Linked DNA regions of Homo sapiens. The protein of the gene in region 1 interacts with the protein of each later gene in a pairwise test. Each region holds a gene or a part of one and is shown on either strand. Other genes may lie near its edges.

What was found. Proteins that work in one complex are often made in the same cells at the same time.
Region 2: the proteins of LMO2 (region 1) and ZNF185 interact in binary tests that used the Homo sapiens proteins (3 or more experiments, as listed by UniProt).
Region 3: the proteins of LMO2 (region 1) and GOLGA2 interact in binary tests that used the Homo sapiens proteins (3 or more experiments, as listed by UniProt).

What each region holds. Positions count from the first base shown.
Region 1 is NC_000011.10:33,867,499-33,875,526, reverse strand, and holds part of LMO2 (rhombotin-2), read left to right. Parts: intron 1-5,539; 5' UTR 5,540-5,810; coding exon 5,811-5,817; exon of another isoform or gene 5,818-5,940; coding exon 5,941-6,181; intron 6,182-8,028. UniProt on the Homo sapiens protein: Acts with TAL1/SCL to regulate red blood cell development. Also acts with LDB1 to maintain erythroid precursors in an immature state.
Region 2 is NC_000023.11:152,894,217-152,901,066, reverse strand, and holds the start of ZNF185 (zinc finger protein 185), read right to left. Parts: upstream 3,001-6,850; 5' UTR 2,829-3,000; intron 1-2,828. UniProt on the Homo sapiens protein: May be involved in the regulation of cellular proliferation and/or differentiation.
Region 3 is NC_000009.12:128,266,008-128,273,007, forward strand, and holds part of GOLGA2 (golgin subfamily A member 2), read right to left. Parts: intron 6,859-7,000; coding exon 6,778-6,858; intron 2,518-6,777; coding exon 2,413-2,517; intron 2,154-2,412; coding exon 2,110-2,153; intron 1,991-2,109; coding exon 1,927-1,990; intron 1,511-1,926; coding exon 1,451-1,510; intron 1,268-1,450; coding exon 1,187-1,267; intron 319-1,186; coding exon 280-318; intron 14-279; coding exon 1-13. UniProt on the Homo sapiens protein: Peripheral membrane component of the cis-Golgi stack that acts as a membrane skeleton that maintains the structure of the Golgi apparatus, and as a vesicle thether that facilitates vesicle fusion to the Golgi membrane.

The sequences.
Region 1 (8,028 bases):
AGTTCACTGCAACCTCTGCCTCCCAGGTTCAAGCAATTCTCCTGCCTCAGCCTCCCGGGTAGCTGGGATTACAGGCGTCAGCCACCTCGCTTGGCTAGTTTTTGTATTTTTAGTAGAGATAGGGTTTCATCACGTTGGCCAGGCTGGTCTCGAACTCCTGACATCAGGTGATCCACCCACCTCAGCCTCCGAAAGTGTCAGGATTATAGGCGTGAGCCACCTCGCCCGGCCGCCCAAACATTTTAAAGTTAGAATCTCTTTTTATAAGCAAAATTTTCCATAGAAGGTGACTATGTGCCACTTTCCTCTCCAAGCACCTGATCTGCTTCATTTCACAGAATCCTTAGAACAGCTCCACGAGTAGGTACTCTGAATACTCCCGCTTTACAGATGTGGAAGCTCAAATGCAGAGAGGTTGGGCAACATGCCCAAGGTCAATGAATGCAGAACTGCTGCAGTGGGAGCAGGGGTGGGTGACACCCACTAGGGAGGTGCTTTCAAACTCCTACTGCTCCAAGGAGCAAGCTAGAAAATCCCACTTCTCAGGCCCCTTCCACTAGGACACACTATGAGCTTAACACTGCTAAGAACTCACTGAGGAATGGTGACATTTGGGGGCGGCTCCTTCAGTGCTTTGTTTGGCTTCTTTTTTAAATTATAAATGGTGGTTTGAAAGTTGTTGGAGGGGAAAATCAGATGAAATCAGGGATGTGGCTGAAGCAGTCAGTGTAGCAGTGTAGCAGAGAAGCAGAGAAGCTGTCAGCAGCCTACCCAGGCCCCGAAATGGGCACAGCCCTGCATTTCTGGCCTGAGGCTTGCCGAGGTCTTAGGTGAACTTCAGCTCTTTCTACAGCACCCCAGTCTCAGCACTCTTTGGTGGATGTCCTGATTGGCTGGGAGATTGTTGCTTCCTGATACAGTGGTGATTACTTCTGAAAGATGGGGTAATACCAACAGCTATCGTTTCTGACCATTTACTGTGCAGCATCACTGTGCAAAGTATTTTTATACATATCCTATTGACTCCTCTCAAAACTCCTGTGAGGCAAGCAGGCACCCCAGTGGCCTCATCCTAGTTCTGGCCCTGGTGACATTATGATTGCCTCCATCCTCCATTTGATAGGTACAGAAACTGAGGTTCAGAGAAGTGAAGTAAATTCCCCCAGATCACGCAGCTAGCAAACAGCTGAGCTTCTATGCTCATCCTAAGGCTCGGTTGAAATGGATTTTTTAAAAGATGTATTTTGGGCTCTTTACTATATAGAAAACCGAATCTGTTTATCACTAAGGTTACTAATAGGCCTTACATCTGTGAAAACTTATCTGTCAGCTGGCCCTGAAATGTTCTGAAATGAGTCTGAGCACAGGATGCCTGTGACAACCGAATAGTTTAAAAAAATTCTCCATGGGAGCCGAAACCCTATTAAGACAGGTCTTTATTTTTGTTCCTGAATGCCACATTTAGAAACAAAATGTCATATTTTTGTATATGAATGTCACAAGTGACAAAGCATATGTTGCAACTTGGCTTCTAATGGTTGAAAAAAAAAGAGAGGTAAATTATCATAATGTTGGGATCTTCTCAATTATATTTGCATTTTCATTTCTATCAGAAGTCCATTTTAGCAAAGGAATGTAACCTTAGTCACTTGAAACTGCTGTTCCCTTAGAAAACAATTGTAAATGTAATAAGCAAAAAGGATAGAAAATGCCCACAGGGGAAAAAAATGATCCATCTGGGGTCAGAGCCATCGTGTAGATTGATTCATTCTTCTTCTAGCATTCTTATTCAGGAAGGAAAACTTGAACATTTTCTAGATTTTAGGATATTTAAGATTTGCAAGGAATTGGGGGAAAGGGAAAAGGAATGAAATTTCAGTCCCACTGGCAGGGATCAAATAGAGATTTTCTCAACTTTTAAAAGAACCGTTTTACATGTCCCAATCACCTCATAGTTCCTGAGTCTCTCTTCTGCATAAGGCATGTACTAGTTGTTAAGGGAGGATACAATAAGGTCATGATTGCTTTAAAATTATTCATAATAAAAACACATTTTGAGACTTGATTCTAAATGTTAAACTTAAATTTGAGCAATTTAATTGCCCGTTGAATAGGAATGAAATCCCACCGGTAGGCAGTTATTTCTTACAACCACTGTGTGTGAAATTGAAATCTTAAGATACCATTTCAAATATTCACCTTCTCTAAGGAAGTTCTCCCCAAAGAGTTGTGAAAGATAAGAAACTGACCCAAAGTCATATGCAGTAATCTCTTTTTCTTTACACACTCAGGTCAAAGTAGAAGCATATTATTAAAAAGAAACGTTATGCCCTGAATTTGGCTGTTCTGAGGTTACCTCTTGGAACCCAAGGATATATTTAATTTAAAAACTGACTTGAGCCCCATGCAAAACTGTGACAAGGAAAGTAATAATTTATCAGATTAAATAAAAACAAGCAGATGTGGCCAGGCGCGGTGGCTCATGCCTGCAATCCCAGCACTGTGGGAGGCTGAGGCAGATGGACCGCCTGAGGTCAGGAGTTTCAGACCAGCCTGGCCAACATGGTGAAACCCCGTCTCTACTAAAAATACAAAAAATTAGCTAGGCGTGGTGGCGAGCGCCTGTAATCCCAGCTACTCGGGAGGCTGAGGCAGGGAAAATCGCTTGAACCCAGGAGGCAGAGGTTGCAGTGAGCTGAGATCGCACCATTGCACTCCAGCCTGGGTATCAGAGCGAGACTCCATCTCAAAAAACAAACAAACAAACAAATAACACCCAAGCAGATGCAAACAGGTCATTTAGTCACCACGATAATGAACGTTAAAATGGAAAACACTTACATGTTTTATTTAGGAGAAGAAGGGGGTGAGGTGAAGGAATCCTGTTTCCTGCTTTTAAAAAACAGGAAATAGTTTCCAAATTTGGGTGGGCAATTCTTATTTTAAACCCCCATTTCACCTTTAAATTTAATTTCAAGCTCTTTTAAAATTATCTTAATGATGCCCTTTACTATAACATAGCAGCTGCCATTTATGAGTGCTTACTATATACCAGTTGCTTTTCATGCAAGCAACTTCATATCTGTTATTACCCCCATGCCATTACAAATCTATGTGCCACCCTTTTGTGCACTAACTCATATAATCCCCACAATAACTTAGGCAATAGGTTCTGTCGTCTCCATTTTACAGATGAGGATACTGGGAGTTTATTTGTTTGTTTGTTTATTTATTTTGAGACGGAGTCTCACTCTGTCACCCAGGCTGGAGTGCAATGGCGCGATCTCTGCTCACTGCAACCTCTGCCTCCTGGGTTCAAGTGATTCTCCTGCCTCAGCCTCCCGAGTAGCTGGGGTTACAGGCATGTGCCACCACACCTGGCTAATTTTTGTATTTTTAGTAGAGATGGGGTTTCACCATGTTGGGCAGGCTGGTCATGAACTCCTGACCTCAAGTGATCCACCCGCCTCGGCCTCTCAAAGTGCTGGGATCGCCTCGGCCTCTCAAAGTGCTGGGATTACAGGTGTGGGCCACCGAGCCCGGCCAGGATACTGGGAGTTTAAATTCCTGCTGTGAGCCCAGGTTGACACAGCTGGTCAAGGATGGGTTAGAATCCAGGTAGTCTGACTCCAGAGCTACTACCGCATACTGCCTCCTCAGATTAAATAATTTTCCTAGGACATGCTAACTGATAAGTAAGAGTCTAAATCAAACCCAGGCAGTTGGGTTCCAAAATTCCAGCGTTTAACCACCACATTGACTGGTTATAAGTAGGTAAACTGTTCATCACAACCTATATATTTATTTTCATTTCTGTTAGAAATGAAAGTAGTGTGGTAGGTTACATATTTATCACATAGTTTAGGCTTGCCTAAATTCTAAGTATTTTCTTTTTTAAATTAAAAACAAGGGTCTATCGGAAAAAAAAAAACCCAACTTTTTTTTTTTTTTTTTTTTTTGAGACAGGGTCTCACTCTGTTCCCCAGACTGGGGGGCAATGGTGCGATCATGGCTCACTGCAGCCTCAACCTCCTGGGCTCAAGCAATCCTCCCACCTCCGCCTCCCGAGTAGCTAGGATTTCAGGCAAGCACCACCACGCCCAGCTAATTATTTTTATTTTTTATTTTTTGTAGAAACGGGGTCTCACTGTGTTGCTCAGGCTAGCCTGGGTCTCCCAAAGTGCTGGGATCACAAGCATGAGCCACCGAGCACAGCCGAAAAAGTCTTTTTGTATACTGAAGTCTCCACTAGGACAAAAATTTGCTCTTAAGGCTTCCTTTGGGACACACACACACACACACACACACACACACACACACACACAGCTTTTGATTATACCCATTAGGGACCCAAGCCTTGGGACACAGGGACCAGAAAATGACAAGAGCATGCAGGCAGTAGTAAACTCTGGTTATCCTTAAAATGGGAACAGAAATGTATGCCTATGATCCAGACTGATCATATAAAACCATGGATCCTGAAAGTACGTTCCCTCTTTACAAGCCTTAATGACTGGCATCACGCACAAATAGGCCTTTCAGCTTCTGAACGCAGATATTTTCAAGGAACTCTGAGGCCCAGGAGAGCCTAAGTTTTTCTCCACGGAAGGGCAAACTACTAGCCTCCCCCGCTTCCCCTCTGCGTTCCTGCCTCTTTCTAGAAGGAGGCTGAGAGGGGGAAGCCTGAACCCCCAAATCAAGTCCGCCTTCTTTCTCTGTGCCTGACCCAGGGCAAAATAATCTCTCTGATCCTGTTCTTGACCATTGAAAAAGCACTTTCTCTGGTCGGGATACTACTGGCACTTTACATGGGGGGCAGTTTAACCGCAGGAGTCCGCTTTCTGAAAGGTGCAGAGGGAGGGGATTCCGCCACCAGCCGACTGAGAGGAGCCCCGGCCCCGCGTGGTCCCTCCCAGCCACCCTCCCTCTGGGATTAGCTGCCCTGGCTCTGCTCTAGGCGTCCCCAGCCCGTGCAGTCCCGGCTGGCGCACCACCATCGCCTCTGCAGAGCGCGGCCGCAGCCCGGAGCCCGCAGCCCGGAGCCCGCAGCCTGGGGCCCGCAGCCCGTAGCCCGCAGCCCGCAGAGCCGCGCTGTCCGGGGCATCCCAGTGCACGGCGTCCGTGGACCTGGGACCTCGAACCTGGGACGGGCGGAAAATCCACTGGGAACACTTGCATTTCTGTAGGTGCTTATTTCACATTCTTGTCTTTTCTTGCTTGCTCGAGCTGTTCGTGGGTTACTTTCTGCCTTAGTTAAACCAAAAGGGAAAGGCGGAAGAGGGGAAGCCCTGAAGAATGATTTAGTGGTTGCCCAGCCTCCTTTCCAAGGAGAGGTGTTCGCTGAGCGGCTCTCCCCGTCCCCGACACTGGCCCCTTTAAGAAGCCAAGTCAGTCCTGATGCTGCTGTTTGTATTGCTAATCCCCAGGAGCCCCGTTTAAAAAAAAAAAAAAAAAAAGGAAGAAAAAAGGGGAGGTGGGGGGACCGGGCAGCTGTCTCTTTAAATGTGATTTCCTTCTATTGTATTTGAATCGTGATCAGGAAAAAGGAAATGAAACCAGAGACAGAGGGAAGCTGAGCGAAAATAGACCTTCCCGAGAGAGGAGGAAGCCCGGAGAGAGACGCACGGTCCCCTCCCCGCCCCTAGGCCGCCGCCCCCTCTCTGCCCTCGGCGGCGAGCAGCGCGCCGCGACCCGGGCCGAAGGTGCGAGGGGCTCCGGGCGGCCGGGCGGGCGCACACCATCCCCGCGGGCGGCGCGGAGCCGGCGACAGCGCGCGAGAGGGACCGGGCGGTGGCGGCGGCGGGACCGGGATGGAAGGTTAAGTCCTGAGCAGCAGCAGCAGCTGCAGCCGCCTGGAGCCAGGCTGCGCGCCCCGGCCCCCGCCTCGGCCGCGGCGCGCCCGCAGCCCGGTGATTCGCTCTCTCTCTTTGGCGTTTGAAGGGAGCGCGGTGACTGTCCTTGAGCGCGGAGGGGCGAGCTCGCCGGCGGAGCGCCGGAGCAAGCGGAGGCGCAGGAGCGGCGGCGACGGCGGCGGCGGCGGCGGCGCCCGAGCACCCGAGGGGGTCCGAGCCCCGGCAGCCGGCCAGCCCCGCGCCACAAAGGGAGCGCCCCCGCCGCCCGGCACCCCGCCTCCCTCCCCAATGTCCTCGGCCATCGAAAGGAAGAGCCTGGACCCTTCAGAGTAAGTGCGGCCCCCCTGCCCCTGCCACCCCCGGTGTCCACGGCCTCGCGTCCCGGAGCGTCGGGGGGACCCGGGCGGCCCGCGAGGGGGCTCCAGGTGCGCGCTCGCGGCGTGCCCTTGGCCCCCTGTGCCGAGCGCTGGGCTCCTCCTTCCTCCCGGGTGATTCCGGGGGCTCTGGGAGAGGGACTGGGCGGCGGGCGGCAGGGACAGGGGTCGGCCCGGCGCCTCTGCGGGCCACTCCAGGCTACTGGGACGCTCCCCAAAGCCACCACGGGCCAGAAAGTTTGCACGGGAGCAGGCACGAGGAGAGCCTGGAGGCGCGCAGGTGCAGTCCGGAGAGCGTTCTGGGCTTGACTCTGCTCCCTTCTTCCCTCTCCTTCTCGGTCCTTTCTCTTTGTCCATTTGGTCTTGGAAAGGGGAACATTCCAAGTGGCGGCCTCCGGGGTCCCCAACGGCCGCCTTCCCGGTCCGCAGGTGGAGCCGCTGCCAGCCTTGCGGATAACGGGCGGGTGAGGGGTCCGACCGTCCACCTCGGAGCTGGCTCTGGGCCTCCAGGGATTTCTAGAGCAGCGAAATCCGGAGTAAATCTGAGTAGGTGTACCCCTCCTCGGGGTCCACCGATGGGGACATGTGAACCTCGAAAGTTAATGCACCATTTTGTGTATAGGTGAATTATTCTGGGGAGTAGAGTCTCGTAGTTTTTAGCAGAGTCTTAAAAGGGTTTGGGGTCAGGGAACCAGAGCTCTAATGAGCATTGGCCGCATCTGTTTTCTGAGCCGCGTACTGGTTTGGAATGTTTTTCTATCCCTCACCCATTCTTCAGCGTTAACATGGGGAGTAAGGGGTGTTTAAGATATCATTTTCCTGTCAACGCAAATGCCCTTTTAAGAGTCATTAGCTGTCTGGTTTTGAGAATTTTTATTCCTTTGAAGTCCCCCTCTAATCCTTTGAAGGGATTTGTTACACAAGACCAAAGGAGCTGGTTAATGACTTGTCCATTTGTGCTTTTAAGAGACATTTGTTTTGTTTTTTCTTTTCCTGCTTTAAAAGAATTGTGCTTTCCTGCTTGAAATACCGCACACACACACATACACCCTTCAATTTCGGCTTTCTATGGTGTTTATTTACCTGGGTTTTACCCTCAGTTACCAGCATAAAAGCTCAACATATTCTCATAAAACACAGGAAGTACCACCATCCAATGAGAATATAAACATCACTATTCAGTCTTGAAGGTTAAGACACCAGTTCTGTAATGAGCTAGGTTTGTTATAACAAAAACCCCCACTTCCTTCAACAAATTCTCAGGAGAAAAATAACATTCCTTTTTAAAAGTATGTTTATGCAAACAATGGGTTTAAAGGGTGGTTTGATCACTTTTTTAAAATAAACTTAAAACTGAGCTCTGAGTTTCAGAGACTGGGCAAGATCATAGTAACACAATAAGGGAGTGAATTGGATGAATTGGTGCCTCATGCCTTTTTGATCAGCAGAATTTAGTCACTAATCCTTTCAATAGAAGATTAATCTGAAGGTTTCATTTCCCTGAAGGAAGTTTGCTTCTTTCAAAGTTTGTGCTTTTTCACTGAGGTTAGAAACTGAAACATCCTAACTTCCTAATACAACAGATATCTACTGCTGGAGGCTCACCAGCTCCTTCCTTCACTTCACTATTTGCCCAACGAAGACAGATTCTGATCAAAGAGGGACAAGCCAGTTGAGAAATTGCTGCAGCACATTCTCCCCATGCCCTTAGAAATTGTTATGATTGTCCCAGAAATCCAGGCTTAAATGATACTCAGGTGTAATATTCAAGATAAGGGTCTGGGAGAATATAAAATATTAAT
Region 2 (6,850 bases), on another chromosome or scaffold:
TCTCTCCACCTAGTCCCACTTCACTCCTTGCCACCACAGCCCTGAAGGAGGGCACCATAGTCCTGGCTCAGCTACCTTCCGTGACAGAGCACCTCTGTGCCAGGAACCTAGCACTTGCAGGCACCCAGTGCAGCAGGTGCTCCTGGCTTTAGCCACCCTTCAGTACTGGTGAGAAAACAGAGGCCTCAAGGGGTTGCATGAAGGGCCGAACTTTGCACAACTGGATGGTGGCTGAGCTGGGGTTTGAACCCAGGCTGACCTCTGAGCCATTCTCTTAACCACTAGGCTATGAAGGTGCCACCCTCACCTGCCACACACCTGACCAGGTGTGGGACAGTTCAGCCCCTCCTCCTCTTCCCGGCCTTTGGAAGCAATGATGGCAACCTCTCCTGAGCATCTCTCAGGGACTGGTCCCCTGATGGCACTGCCCTTGTCTTGGCATCAGCCGGTTCACTATGGGCACAGTGGTAACGAATGCAAAGTCCCTGGACTGACCCTAAACATGAGAGCCCAAAGGCCCGGACTGCAAGGGGTTGCCGCACTGGAGAGCAGCTCTCCTCTCTGGCACTGGTCCTGTCCCATGCCGCCAGGGACTGGCAGTGGGGGCAGCCTCAGGGCTCAGCAACAGAAGGAAAGCTTGTGTTACATGTGACCTGGCACCTTATAAGTTGTGGCTTGAAGCAAAACCCGCACCAAAGGGGGCAGTCACCTGTGGAAGCTTGAGTAGGGAAGGAGGAAGGCAGGCTTCTGGCTTCCAGAATGCACCGAGCCAGAATTGGGGGAGTTTGCTTGGCATGCAACTGAAGACAGTTCAGGGAACAAGTGCCGATGCCTATCGTGGCCAGGTCCTGGGCCCAGTGCTAGGGACCCAGAGTCCCTGCCCTGCCAGATCTCAGGAGGCCTTGGGGACACTGGGCAGGAAGACAAGGAGCACAAGTCAGGCTGAGGGAGGCTGAGCTGAGGCGCTGGCTGCCCCTGGCATCACTGGCCTCACGTGGGAAAGGCTTTTTCTGGAGTCTGGACTTGAGCTGAGCAGGAAGTGAGGTGGACAAGCACTGCTGCCATTTGGATTCAGATGGCAACTTCTTACTGACAGATGGCCTCTCTGTCACTCCTCAGGGCAAGGCATGGAGCTGATTTCTCTGTGGGCCCCCATATGCAGGAGCTCAGCAAGAAGTGGTTTATGATCTTTCAGGAGTAACGGGGAGGTTAGACTCCAGCAGCTCCAAAGGACGTGCGGGCCTTGACCTGGTGGCTGCCGAGCTCCTCCTCCTGCTTCCAAGCCCTTCGCCTCCAGGAAGCCTTCCCTGATCTTCCCAGCCAGGGGTGCCTCGCTGCTCCAGGACTGAGGAACCCCTAATGTTTTCATGCTACTCGGAGCTGCAACATCCTAAGTGGTCCTGGGCCACCTCTGTTGCTTGAGTCATGAGTGTCCAGAGGATGGAAATGAACAGATCTTGAGCACCTGCTGCGTGTCTGGCCCTGCACTGAGTGCCTTCCATCAGCTCCACACGGCTGAATGCACAGCATCCAGCCAGGGGCTGGGAATTGCTGGAAGGAGGGGCAGGTGAGAGGGATCTGTTCCTTCCCATCCTGAAGTGGCCTGGGAGCGATGAGGGGAACAGCGGAGGCACCAAGGCCTGCCAGAAGGCTGGCCCCTCATCTGTGCATCTGTGTCTTGGCCACTTGCTGGCCTCTGAGCTGCCCCTTGTTTTTCAGATGAGGAGCGGAGGCCCTGGGAAGGCAGGACCTCTGCAGCTCTGTTCAGGCCTATCAACCTGTGCACCCCTGCCTCCCGCCCCCAGCCAGGTACGACAGCCAGAAGTCTGAAGGGCCATGAGACCAAGGCAGGACTTAGTCCAGGTACTGAAGCCTCAAGCACTGCTGGATGGGGTGTGAGAGGCCCTCTCTCGGGGCTCACAGCTTTGGGGCCTCCCATGATGCCAAGGCTTCGTGCCGACGGCTCAGCAAGAACACAACTCCTACCATGCCTCAGATGTCCCAAAGCCGGGACACACCCACCACCTACTTTATCTGAGTCCCCAGCAGCCCTGGGTGGGAGGCAGCTTGACGTGTCACCCCCTTAAACCGACAGAGTACCCAGGTGTCCCCAGCTCAGAAGTGGCAGATCAGGCAGGAGCACCTGAGCTTTCGGCCTTTTTGTAAGGCAAGGTATCCCTCTGCCTTTCCAAAGAGGACAGACTCTTGGCTCCCTCTGCCCCCATCAAAACAATCCAGCCACAGAGCTGGTGCAGTGCCGATCCTGTCGATAACACCCAGTGACACCTGATTCGGCGCCTTCTGTCTGAGTGTGAGCAGCCACCATCCTCATGGCCCTCCCCAAGATTGCCCTGTACCCAGCACATGCACCTCACAGGCCCCAGGGCGATTGAGGGGATCCTCTGGGTGAGCCAGCCTCTGGGTCTCAGTTTCCTCATCTATAAAATGGGCACAGGGGGACGGAGGGATATGAGATTCCCTGATTCTTAAAGGCCTGCAGTCAACTCTCAGAGCATCCTGGCCCCTCGCCGTTTACTAACAATTAAACCGTGTCTTTCCTAAAGGGCAAGACAGAGGGATCAGGCTGGCAAGGGGGACACTTGCCTCTGTAGGGGACGCTGGCCTCCTCTGCCTGTCAGTCTTTTCACTCACAGCGAAAACCAGAAATCCACTGACTCCCGGGGGGAACCCGAAGAGAGATGCTTGGAGCTGGTAAGGGTTATGGATGGGGAAACTGAGGCCCTGACTTGTCCCCAGCTGGGCACGGACTGGGTGCCCCCCACTGCCTCCAAGCAGGGCCGCATCCAATGGCGACTCGACAGCCCTACCTGGCACCGGTGCCCGGCTCGTGGGGCGGGTGGAGGGTCGGGCAGTCGCAGGGCGCGGGCTCCCTCGGGTGGACGGCGCCCGGCCGGGCCGGGCCGGGCCGGGGAGGCAGGCGCGGGGCGCGGGGCGCGGTGCACAGCGGGGAGCGCGCAGGGAGGCGAGGAGGCGCGGACTGGGCTCCGCCCGCAGGAGAACAAACAGGTTTTCTCCGGCCGCCCGGAGCCTCGCCCCTCGCCCCTCCCCTCGGCCGGCCCCTTCCTCTGCCCCTCCTGGGGTAGGTAGAGGCGCCTGGCACATTCCGCACATTCTCCCGCCAGCGTCCTCCGCCCGCCCGCCCCTTCTCGGCCCCGCCCCGCGGGGCTGCTGGAGAAATCAAGTCTGGGGCTCCCCTTGTCGAGCACGGGGCGAGCTCCAGAAGGCTCTGCCGTGATGGAAAACTTCCAGGCAAATTCCTCCGGGCCCGTGGCCCCCAGGCCGGGAAGCCTCCGCCACGTGAAGGGCCCCCGCTCCTAGTTGCGCGATCTGGCCCCGGCACAGGGCCAACGACTTCCACAGATGCTGTCGGGTTAATTCAGTCGAGAACTACCGTTCCTAGATCCATTTTACAGATGGAGATCCCAGACAGGGGCGGGGAGGGGGGCGGGGGGCTGGCGGCTGAGATCATCCAGGAAGTCCTGCAGGCAGGAAAGGAGGAGAAGAGTGAGGGAGCCGCTCATCGTGGAAGGCCATCCTGGGACGGACCCGGGGCTCACAAGGCACAGCAAACGGGGCTATCTCCCAGGCTGGGCGACGAGATACAGCCAGACTCCCAGAGCCAATGCGGTTTGATGTACCTGTGTCACGCGTTGGTGCTCACCGAGTGCTTTATTGTGTGCAAGGCCCTGGGCTGGGGCTAAGGATGGAGAGAGCATGGAGGAAAGACCCCTCACCCCACGGCCTCCCAAACAGGGAGACAATTAAGCCAGCCCAAGAAATGGCATGGACTTGGCCAGGAGTTGGCCTACCAGGGTGGTAGGCTCAAAAGAATGGACCAGCTGCTTCTCCTTCATCAAGGCCTGCCAATGTGGTGTTTCCATGGCCCTCCAGTCCACCCACTTCTCCCTGTGCCTGCTGCCACCACCCTAGTCCAGACCTGGCCCCGAAGACCAGCCTCCTTGCTGGTGTCCCCCTGCCTCTGGTCTTGCCTTCCTTTCCCTCAGTCTCTACACGGAGGTCAGGTTAAAAGTTCACGTGTGTCAATATGATCAGGTGCTCTCCTGCTTGCAACTCCTCCATGGCTTCCCATTGCTCTCAGGGTAAAAGCCAGACTCCTTGAGACGACCTATCCCTGCAGGTCCAGCCACTCTTCCCTTTGTTCAATACATTACAGCCACACTGGCCTTTTTCCATTGCCTTCTGAATACATCACATGGCGCTCACCTTGGGGTGTTTGCTCCTGCTCCTCGGACTCCCTAAAATGCTCTTCATCCCCGTCGGGCTAGTGAGCTCTTAGTCATTCTTCAAGCCTCCACCCAGTGTCCGGAAAGCCTCCCCTGCCTGCCACCCAGTCGAGCTGATCACTTCCTTCTGTGCACCCCTTAGTTCCCTCAGATGACATCAATCCAGCATAGTGGCTGTCACCCTCTATTGTTCTAGATCCTGAGCTCTGGGAGGGCAGGGCCCCTTCTGATTCATCACTGGGTCACGGAGACCAGCACAGGGCATCCGAAGAATTTGCAGAAGGAAGTGATGGATGGGTGAGTGAGGCTGTGGAAGCTGTCCTCATCCTTTTCTTCTTGGGGTTCATGAGATAGGGAGAAGGCGACCCTGTGTGTGCTTAGGGGGTTGTATATAAAGTCACTTCTGTTCATGTCCGTCTCTTGCCAACAAGCATTTTTCTGCTTCCAATATTGTATGCCCCTGTCTGGTGGCCAGCAACTAACACCTCCCCTCCTCCACTGTGGCTACTGGTGGCCATGGATTTGGCTTGGCATCTTACCTCCTAAACATGTTTACTGTATGACTTAGGCTGTGTCATACTCTTTGTCTGGGTCCCAGTCCTCTTCAAGAGCCCCTAGTTTGAAAGGGTAGAAGGTAGAAGACATCATGATGGGTGAGATGTAGGGCAAGGAAGAGGGAAAAGGCAAACTTGTTCAAGAGCCCTGAGTCAGGGGTGGGGGGCCCAGCTGGAGAGCATGAGCAAATGTGGTGTCCAACGGCACGGCCAGCAAGTGAGGACTGCCCCAGGCTGGGCCGCCCCAGGGCCTCAAGCTCTTCCCATGTCCCAGGTGACTCAGTCTCTGCCCAGGCCCGATCTGTCACGACTGCTCCAGCCAAAGAGATCAGCCTTCCCTGAACCCCTCCCTCCCTGCCAGGCTGCCAGGCCCTGCAGCTGATCTTGCCTGCAAACGGGTTTGACTTGAATGGTAACTGCCCTGCCCTGCCCTGCCCACCTGTCCATTGCCCCAACAGTCTTCCACTTCCACGCCTGCCAGGGCACCTCTAGTCACCTCAGCCAGGCTTCAGGCACCTGCTGGCTTCTTCAGCCTCTTCAAGCACCAGACATGCCCAAATGACATGTACCCAGATAGACCAAGTGCTCAAATACCACCAGGACGCTGCACAAGATGCTCCCTTTGTTTGGAATGACATTTCCTCCCCAGGGACACCAGGTGGCCTCCACTTTCTCTCAGCAGTAACATTATCTCCTTCATGAACCTTCCCTTAGACCTCCCTCAAGTTCTAGGCCAAGGCTGTGGTGGCTGCTGCCTGCCTCCAGGCTGGGCTCTGTCCCTACCTGGCCTGAGCTTGGCCCTATCCTTTCCTATTCACATCTCTTGCACTTTTCCACCCATCCGCAGCTCCAAGACAGGCCAGCTCCCACCCCCTGGCTCTGGCAGAGTTCTCCTGAAGTCCCTCCAGCTTAGGCAGCAGTGCCACCTCCAGGGGACTGGACAGTCTCTTCCCACCAACAAGCAGGCCCTCAGCAAGGCTCTAAGTGAGAGGTAGGGGCTTCAGGGTGGGGCCAGGCTGGGCTGTCTGGGCAGGCAAGAGGCTGAAAGGTAGAGGCAGGGAGTAGCAGGTGGTGAGCCCTGTGCTGGAGAAGCCATAGCTCACAAGCAGGCCGTGGAGGCAGCGTCTCTGGGAGGCTGCATCTAAGCAATGAGATGGGTAGCACGGCAGGTGGCTGCTGGGAAAGAACTGGCCAGCAGCACTCCTCAGCTCCAGGGGAGGCCCCATTCTGATCTCCAGGGCTGGGAAGAGAACTCAAGCAAGGTGATCTAGCCCCAGAGTTCCCAGGCTAGGAGGTGGGCACAGTGGCTCACGCCTGTAATCCCAGCATTTTGGGAGGCCAAGGAGAGAAGACCGCTTGAGCTCAGGAGTTCAAGACCAGCCTGAGCGATATGGTGAGACCCCGTCTCTACAAAAAATACAGAAAACAAAAAGAGTTACCAGGCTAGAGGGGGAGAAAGAGGGGTTGGGCCCTGAAAGCTGTCAGGCCGCAAAGCTCCCCCAGGCAGTGTCCTCAGCTAGAGGGGACTGAAGACAGGCAGGCAACCTCAACACTTCAGTTGTACAAATGGGAAAACAGAGGCCCACAGAGGGACAAGATGTTGCCAGGATTACACAGCTAGTCTGAGGCAGAGCTGGGCTTAGAACCTGGGGTTCCAGCTGCTCTGGATGGAGCCCCTGCCCAGCTGGAGAGAAGCTGGGGTGCTCAGGTTCATGTGCGGGGAGGGCTGGGCTCCTGCTTGATCCCTAATCCCCTCCTTCCCGGGGCCCGCCCTGCCACCTCATCCTCTTAAGCTCTTCAACCGGTTTACACTTGCTGGGTGACTCTGCTGACTCCAAGCAGGGTGGATGCCCTGGAGGCAGGGGTCCCCAGGTGTGATTGCAGGTAGGATGGGTCCTTTGAGCCCCGAACCCGTGAGGCCAGGCCCTTGTGTTTGTAACCAGCTCTCCTGCTAGGAGCTGGTCCAGCCTCTCAGCATGTGGAGTGGCTGCTCCTCTCCCCCTGTTCTCAGCCTGCACTCCAAGCTACGGG
Region 3 (7,000 bases), on another chromosome or scaffold:
ATTCTTTCTTTTCCTATAGGAAGAGGAAGACAGAGCTCTTACGAGGGGGAGGCAGAGACGGCACAGCAAGGGACATGCCCCCAGAATGCCACCAATGTCCCAGGACAGGCCCACCCATGGGACCAGGTTATCAGGGACCCTGTGGGGATGGGGTGGAATCTGGGGGGGTGAGCCTTCTTCCCCAGGCTGGGAGTGGGTGAGACGAGACTGAGGCCTCTACATTTGAATGCCCCCCAAACCCAGCAGTCATGTTGTGAGCAAACAAAGAAATCACGTTACTTCTTCCAACTGATCCGTAATTTCTTGGTTCTGTTGTTTCTGTGGGGAAGAGTCAAAGGAAGGTGACTGAGGGTGGCCCCCTCAACTCTATTCCCCAGACCAGGAACGGGTAGGCAGGGGCCAGGAATGGATTTTAAAGGCAAAGTTCTCAGACCCAATGGGAACACGAACTGGTAAACTCTCCTCAGGCTCTCAAGGAAAGGGGATTTGTGTCTTTGTTGGTTTTTGCCCACAGCCACAGAACTGAAAGTCTGAATCTCGATTCTCTTGAAAGGACAGTAACATAAACCTCTAGAGATGGAGTGTGAGAAAAGCCCACCCTCTGCCAGTTTGTGATTTAGAAAGGTGTAATCATTCAACAAACATTTGCTGAGCACACACAGGCCAGGTACGGTTCTTAATAGCAGGGATACCAGACAGAAAAAGACAGACAGGAGCCCTTGGCCCTGAGGTTTACATTCTAATGGGCCTTTAAATCTTGGACTCTCAGAGCTAAGAGACCTTTGATACTCTCTAACTCTACCTCCTCAGGAAATGCAAGCCCAAGGAGGAGAGGTGGCTTGTCCCAAATCAAAGAGCAAATTAAGGACTGAGTCAGGGCAGAAATACAGGGCTCCTGACAACCAGTCAGGCTAGCGCTTCCCCAAGAGGCAACAACCCCAGGGCGTGTGTGGCAAGGACTCGAGCAGGGGTGTCTAGAGAAGAGAGAGTAGGCAAAGAGGGCAGCAACAGAAGAGCCATGCTGCATGCTCCGTGCTCTGGGGTCCCTCCAGCTGAGGCCTGGGCCCCCCAGCTCCCCATTCGCCCTTGGCACCAGGGGCCCCCTGCCCCTTTCTTCAGGGTCCCAAGGGGAAACTGGAGCCCAGGATTAGCAGCATGGAATCAGGGGACCCCACTGGACTCTTACCAATTTCTCTATCGTGATATTGAGTTGTTTGTTTGTTACATAGCTGGAGTCCAGGGCTACCGCTAGCTGTTGGTACCGGCTCTGAGGCGCATGCAGAGAGGAGGAGTTGGAGGAGGATTGGGGGGAGAGGTAGAGAGAGCAATCATTAGGGTTGGGGGGTGTGTGGGCTGTCTCAGCTGGCAGAGGGGCACCCAGCCCCCGCTGTGGGAGGAGGTTGGAGGGCTGGCCTGCAGGGTCACTGGGCCACGGCCCAGGGCCTCTTACCTCCAGATCCTTCAGGTTAGCAGACGATGCAGGGCCCTCCCCATTGACACATGTCGCAGACTATAAGAGACGAGAGTGCACATGGAGATGTTCTGTCCCCTCAGTGTCTAAGCCCTCTAACTTCGTTTCTTCCCCAGCAATTGGCAACATTTTCTTTTCTAACTTGGACCCTCTGTCCCGTAACCCCTTTGTGCCAACTTCTCTCATGGTTCTTATTTCCCCACCATCCTTTCCTCCCGAGCAGCTCTCATCCAGTGCTTCTGCAGCAGGATACAATGATGCAACCAGTCATGGGGTCCAACTCCTTCATGTGCACAACTTCAAGGGAGAAGGCTCAGGGAAAAGGCGACTTCCTTAACATTGCCCAGCACATTGGCTGGTCCCAGGATCTTCCCTCTCTCTTGTGAATCCCTGCTTCAGTTTCTATCATAGTTCCCTTCCCCCCACCCCGCTCTCGGCCTCAGTTCCTGAGGTACCTCACAAACAAGACCATTGAGCTGTTGGGAGAGTTGTCGCAGGCTCTCGGTTGATGAGAAAGTCCTAGGGATGGAGACACAGGGGTCAGGGGTGCAGGTGGCTCAATGGGAAAGAAGGTCATGGGCAGTGGCCTCCCTGACTCTCTCAGCCTAGAGACTGCTGCCCCAACAGGAGACACTCACTTGGTTTCATCCATGAGATTAGGGACATTGTCAGCATCATGATTCTGTTTGGGAAGAAACGTGTGAGATGGTCATTCAATTTCTGGTAAGAATCACCCAGGATGGGGTGAGTCAAGCTCCCAAACTCATTCTAACAATCTTCAATCTCCCCAGGCCTCAAGGAAAAAAGCCCAGTCTGAGCCTTCCCCCGGCCCGGTCCCCAGGAAGGGCCCTTGACCCTAGGGAACAAGCTGCCTGTGAAAGGAGAAGATAATGCATAATAGGTACAGGAGGGCAGTGGGCAGAGGGGGAGGAGGCACGAACCTGAGATGCCGCCATGCTAGTGAGACTGGCACCAGGGGAAGGGACACCGCCAGGTAACACGGTGTCATCAGATGGTTGTAGAGTAGCAGCATTGTCCTTGGGTGTCTGTCACAGAACAGAGCAGGGGGTTAGGGGGCCATGCGGGAGAGGTGCCTCAGTACTATGAACACAAGGGTGTGGAACAGGTAGGACAGGTGTTGCTGCAGTCAGAGTGACAGTCACACATGCTAGGAGCCACTCAGGGGTGTGGATTGGTTGCCCAGGCCTTGGGCTGCTAGGCAGCATTTCAGATGGCCAAAGCTCAAAGCAGGGGCTGCACGGCCTCCTTCATGAACACGAGGACCTCGCTCTCCCTGGAGCTCAGCAAAAGACAGCAGCAGGCTCTGACCTGTGGCAGCCACAGCAGGCAGGAGGAAGGTGTGCCAAAGTCAGGGAGGAGAAAGGCACTGTTCTTCCAGAAGGCCAGTCTGTGCTGCAGAGTGACCCTCACTGGGCCCCTACTGGGCAGAGGATGGTGATGAGGAAGTAGTTGTCTGGGCAATGCACAATGTAGCTATCTGCCTGTCTCCTCCTTTCCTCCCTTCCCTTCTCCCCTGCAGTGGCACAATCATAGTTCACTGCAGCTTCCACCTCCTGGGCTCAAGCAATGCTCCCACCTCAGCCTCCCTAGTAGCTGAGATTATAGGTGCACACTACCATGCTCAGCTAATTTCTATAGAAACATGGTCTTGCCATCTTGCCCAGGCTGGTCTCAAAGTCCTGGGCTCAAGTGATCCACCTTGGTCTCCCAAAATGTTGAGATTACAGGTGTGAGCCATTGCACTTGGCCTACTGGCTGTGTTTCTGATTCAGGCCTTTTCAGGGGGAAAAAAAAAAAGCTGCCCAACTAGAAGACTCTCTCCAACTCTCTGGAGGTAAAAAGAGGATAAACCATGGCCAACACCCCCACCCCGACCTCTTACCTCCAAAAACATCTACCCAGCCAAGAAACCACCCAAGAAAACAGAGGTAAGACATCTTCCCTGTGGCTCTTGGCAACTTGGAAGTTGTAGGGCCTCTTTCCTGGGAATAGTACCTGAGGACAATCCTAGGATTCAGAACTTGGGGTCATGTGGAGCCTCTCCCTTGCCCCCAACTGGACCTACCTGCTTGATCAGAGCCCCACCCAGCCTCTCTCCAGGCTCTGACCTTACTCTTCGCCCAAGCCTCTGGTTCTAGAGATCTTCTAATATCTGACAAGCCAGATGGGCAGACAGTGGAAAAAGCTGGCTGACCAGCTAAGCTGGACAAGAGAAAAACACCAGGGAGCCAGGGCCTGGCCACGGAAGCTGGGTCTGGGAGAAGTGACTACACCTCTCTCCAGGGAAAGGACTGCGCGCTCACTGGACCCTTCAGCCCTGGCTTCTGAAAACCCAAATCTGCTTCCCTCCTTAGAGCAAGTGCTGCAGAGGCTGGTGGAACTGAAGATGAGCCAAGCTGCCTTTGCATCTTTGCAAGTTTACTGTGACCATGGAACCTGGTGTTTCCTTGACAATGCCTACAACTGAATCTAATAGGTCAGAGCAAGGGTTCAGTTGCTGGCCAGGCATTAGCCTTGAGGGAAGGCTGGCACTCCTAGCAATGGACCCTGCTAGGCTTTAGGGCCCTCCTGGCATCTTCGGTTCCCACTGATCTCTAGGATTAGACACAAGAATGCTCAGAGGAAGGGAATTTTTTTTTTTTTTTTTTTTTGAGATGGGAGTCTCACTCTGTCGCCCAGGCTGGAGTGTAGTGGCGAGATCTCCACTCACTGCAACCTCCGCCTCCTGAGTTCGAGATTCTCCTGCTTCAGCCTCCCAAGCAGCTGGGATTATAGGTGCACGCTACCACGCCCAGCTAATTTTTGTATTTTTAGTAGAGATGGGGTTTCACCATGTTGGCCAGGCTGCTCTCGAACTCCTGACCTCAGGTGATCCACCCTCCTCAGTCTCCCAAAGTGCTGGGATTACAGGCATGAGCTACTGCACTTGGCTGAAAAAGCATTTTTCTGAGGACTTTCTGACACACATAGCATGATTATTTTGTGAGCAACCAAGTTATTTCATTATTTTAAGTCTTGTAGCCAAGATGGAGTTTTTAAAAAAGCCTACTCTCCTCAAAATGTCCCATCCCATTAAGATATTTTTTCTCTCTCCATTATTCCCTACTTCTGGAAATGTTATCAGCTCCGCTCAGGATACTACGATCACAGGCCTGCATTCCTGGAGTAGAAAACTTACATGGTAATAAAAATGAGAAATTAAAAAAAAACAAAACCTACATTGGAAACAGTTACGGATATAGAGAAGGTATAAAAACAGCAAGGGGCTGGGCATGGTGGCTCACACATGTAATCTCAGCACTTTGGGAGGCCAAGGCAGGTGAATCACTTGAGGCCAGGAGTTCGAAACCAGCCTGAGCAACATGGCAAGACCCCATCTCTATTAAAAATACAAAAAAAATGGCCGGGCGTGATGGTGCAACATCTGTAATCCCAGCTACTTGGGAGGCTGAGGCATGAAAATCACTTGAACCCGGGAGGGGGAGGTTGCAGTGAGCCAAGATCACACCACTGCACTCCAGGAGAAAGAGCAAGACTCTTTCTCAAAAACAAAAACAAAACAGCAAGAAGGAAATACGGGGATCTAGGCCTTTGTTTCCAGAATAGAGGGACCTGGGCTGGCACAGAATCTCAGAGCATTAGGAAACAGGCTGAAGACCCCCTAATCCACTGGACCATTGGCAGAGCAAAAGCCAAATGCTTTTGGCTGCAGGTCACCTCTAAGCCTGTGCTCCCCAGCCGTACCACTCAGCGTCTCCTCTGAGCTGGCAAGGTGAGTCACAGCACCTGGACAGACCTGATCAACTGGAGGGTAACAGGTATGAGACTGGACAACTCTCTAACAGCAGCCAAGGCTGCTCTGTCTCAGTCCCTCTCCCCATACCCATCTCCAACAGGATCAGGCTCTATTCGTGCCCTGCTCCTCTGGCTTGGCAGGAAGGAGTCCCCCAGGTGAGTTAGAGATGGAAGAAATGCCAAATCACAGCCAGAGGAGGTTGTCTCCCAGCCCTGTGTACCTCCATGCCCTGCCCCCCACCAGGCTCCCTGTGTTCCTGAAAGGTGCTCTGTGAGTTCACACTCTGGCCACGGCCTCACCGCTCCCCCTGCCTCCCCCACTCCCCATATGGATTAATGTTACCCACCTTTAATCTTCAAGCCAGCTTCAAATGCCACCTTCTCCAGCCTGGAGTCCATTTGGAACCAACCTCCCCCCGAGCTGAGCATTTGGAATGTTCCAAAATTCTCTCTTGCCTCCTTCAGAGGAGTCTGCCTCCCTCGGTGTGCAGCCTACCTTGTTCATCTATTTTATCCACTGTTTATTTATCAAAGTGCCTTTGTTGTCAAGAGCCCAATGAATATGGCTAAATGTCCATTTGGAGAGATTAGGGGCAGAACGTCTTGGTCACTCATCTGTTTGGTTAACCTCACAACTTTTACAGTTAGTTCCTCTGAAAAAATAGCTTCAATCCTTCCAACTATAATGTGAACTCATTTTCTTTTAACCCTTTGTTCCCTACTCTTAAACCAAAGTGAATTAATTTAAAAAAAAAAAAAAAACACTAACTTCTAGGTGGTTTACTGATCTTTGCCTTTAGGGTAAAACCTAAAGGTCTGTTGGTTTTTTTGTGTTTTTTTTTTTTCATCTCTCCTAGTCTGAGAGTACCCACACTGGGCATTCAAAAGCCCAAATCCCAGAATCCCAGACTGGGAGCAGTGGCTCACGCCTGTAATCCCAGCACTTTGGGAGGCCAAGGTGGGTGGACCACTTGAGGTCAGGAGTTCAAGACCAGCCTGGCCAACATGGTGAAACCCCATCTCTACTAAAAATACAAAAATGAGCCAGACATGGTGGCAGGCACCTGTAATCCCAGCTACTCAGGAGGCTGAGGCAGGAGAAACACTTGAACCCAGGAGGCAGAGGTTGCAGTGAGCCAAGATTGTGCCACTGCACTCCAGCCTGGGCAGTGAGACTCCGTCTCTGAAAAAAAAAGAAGAAAAAAAAAAGCCCCAAATCCCACACACCTGCTCTAAAAGTTATTCCCAAATTACCTTTAAACTTTTAAACTTTAAGATATGTCTCACCTTCTCCAAGATGATAAAAGATTTGGGGGAAGAATAAAAACCCAATCAATCAAGCAGGTGAAGAAGCGGACATAAACAGGCGGAAGGTTAATGGCAGCAACATAAAATAAGCCAGAGGCAAAGTATCCCCCAAACCAGAGAAGCCTCAGGGGCATGCACAGCTGGAGAGAGCAAGCCAGAGAGGGGTCTCGGCACTGCCTCACCTTCCACTTGTCCAATGGGGGGAGCGCTACCCCATTGGAACGGTTAAGGTCGGACACCAGCACCTTCAGAATGTCCTGAATCTACAGGAGGCGAAAAGGGAAAAACAAGGGCAGGGGGAGAAAGGTAGAAGTGGCTTAGAGAGAGGCAAGAAAGTCAGGGAAGGAGGAAGATGTGGGTTCAGGGAAATGAAATAAGAAGAGTGGAGGAGATCAATACCATGGC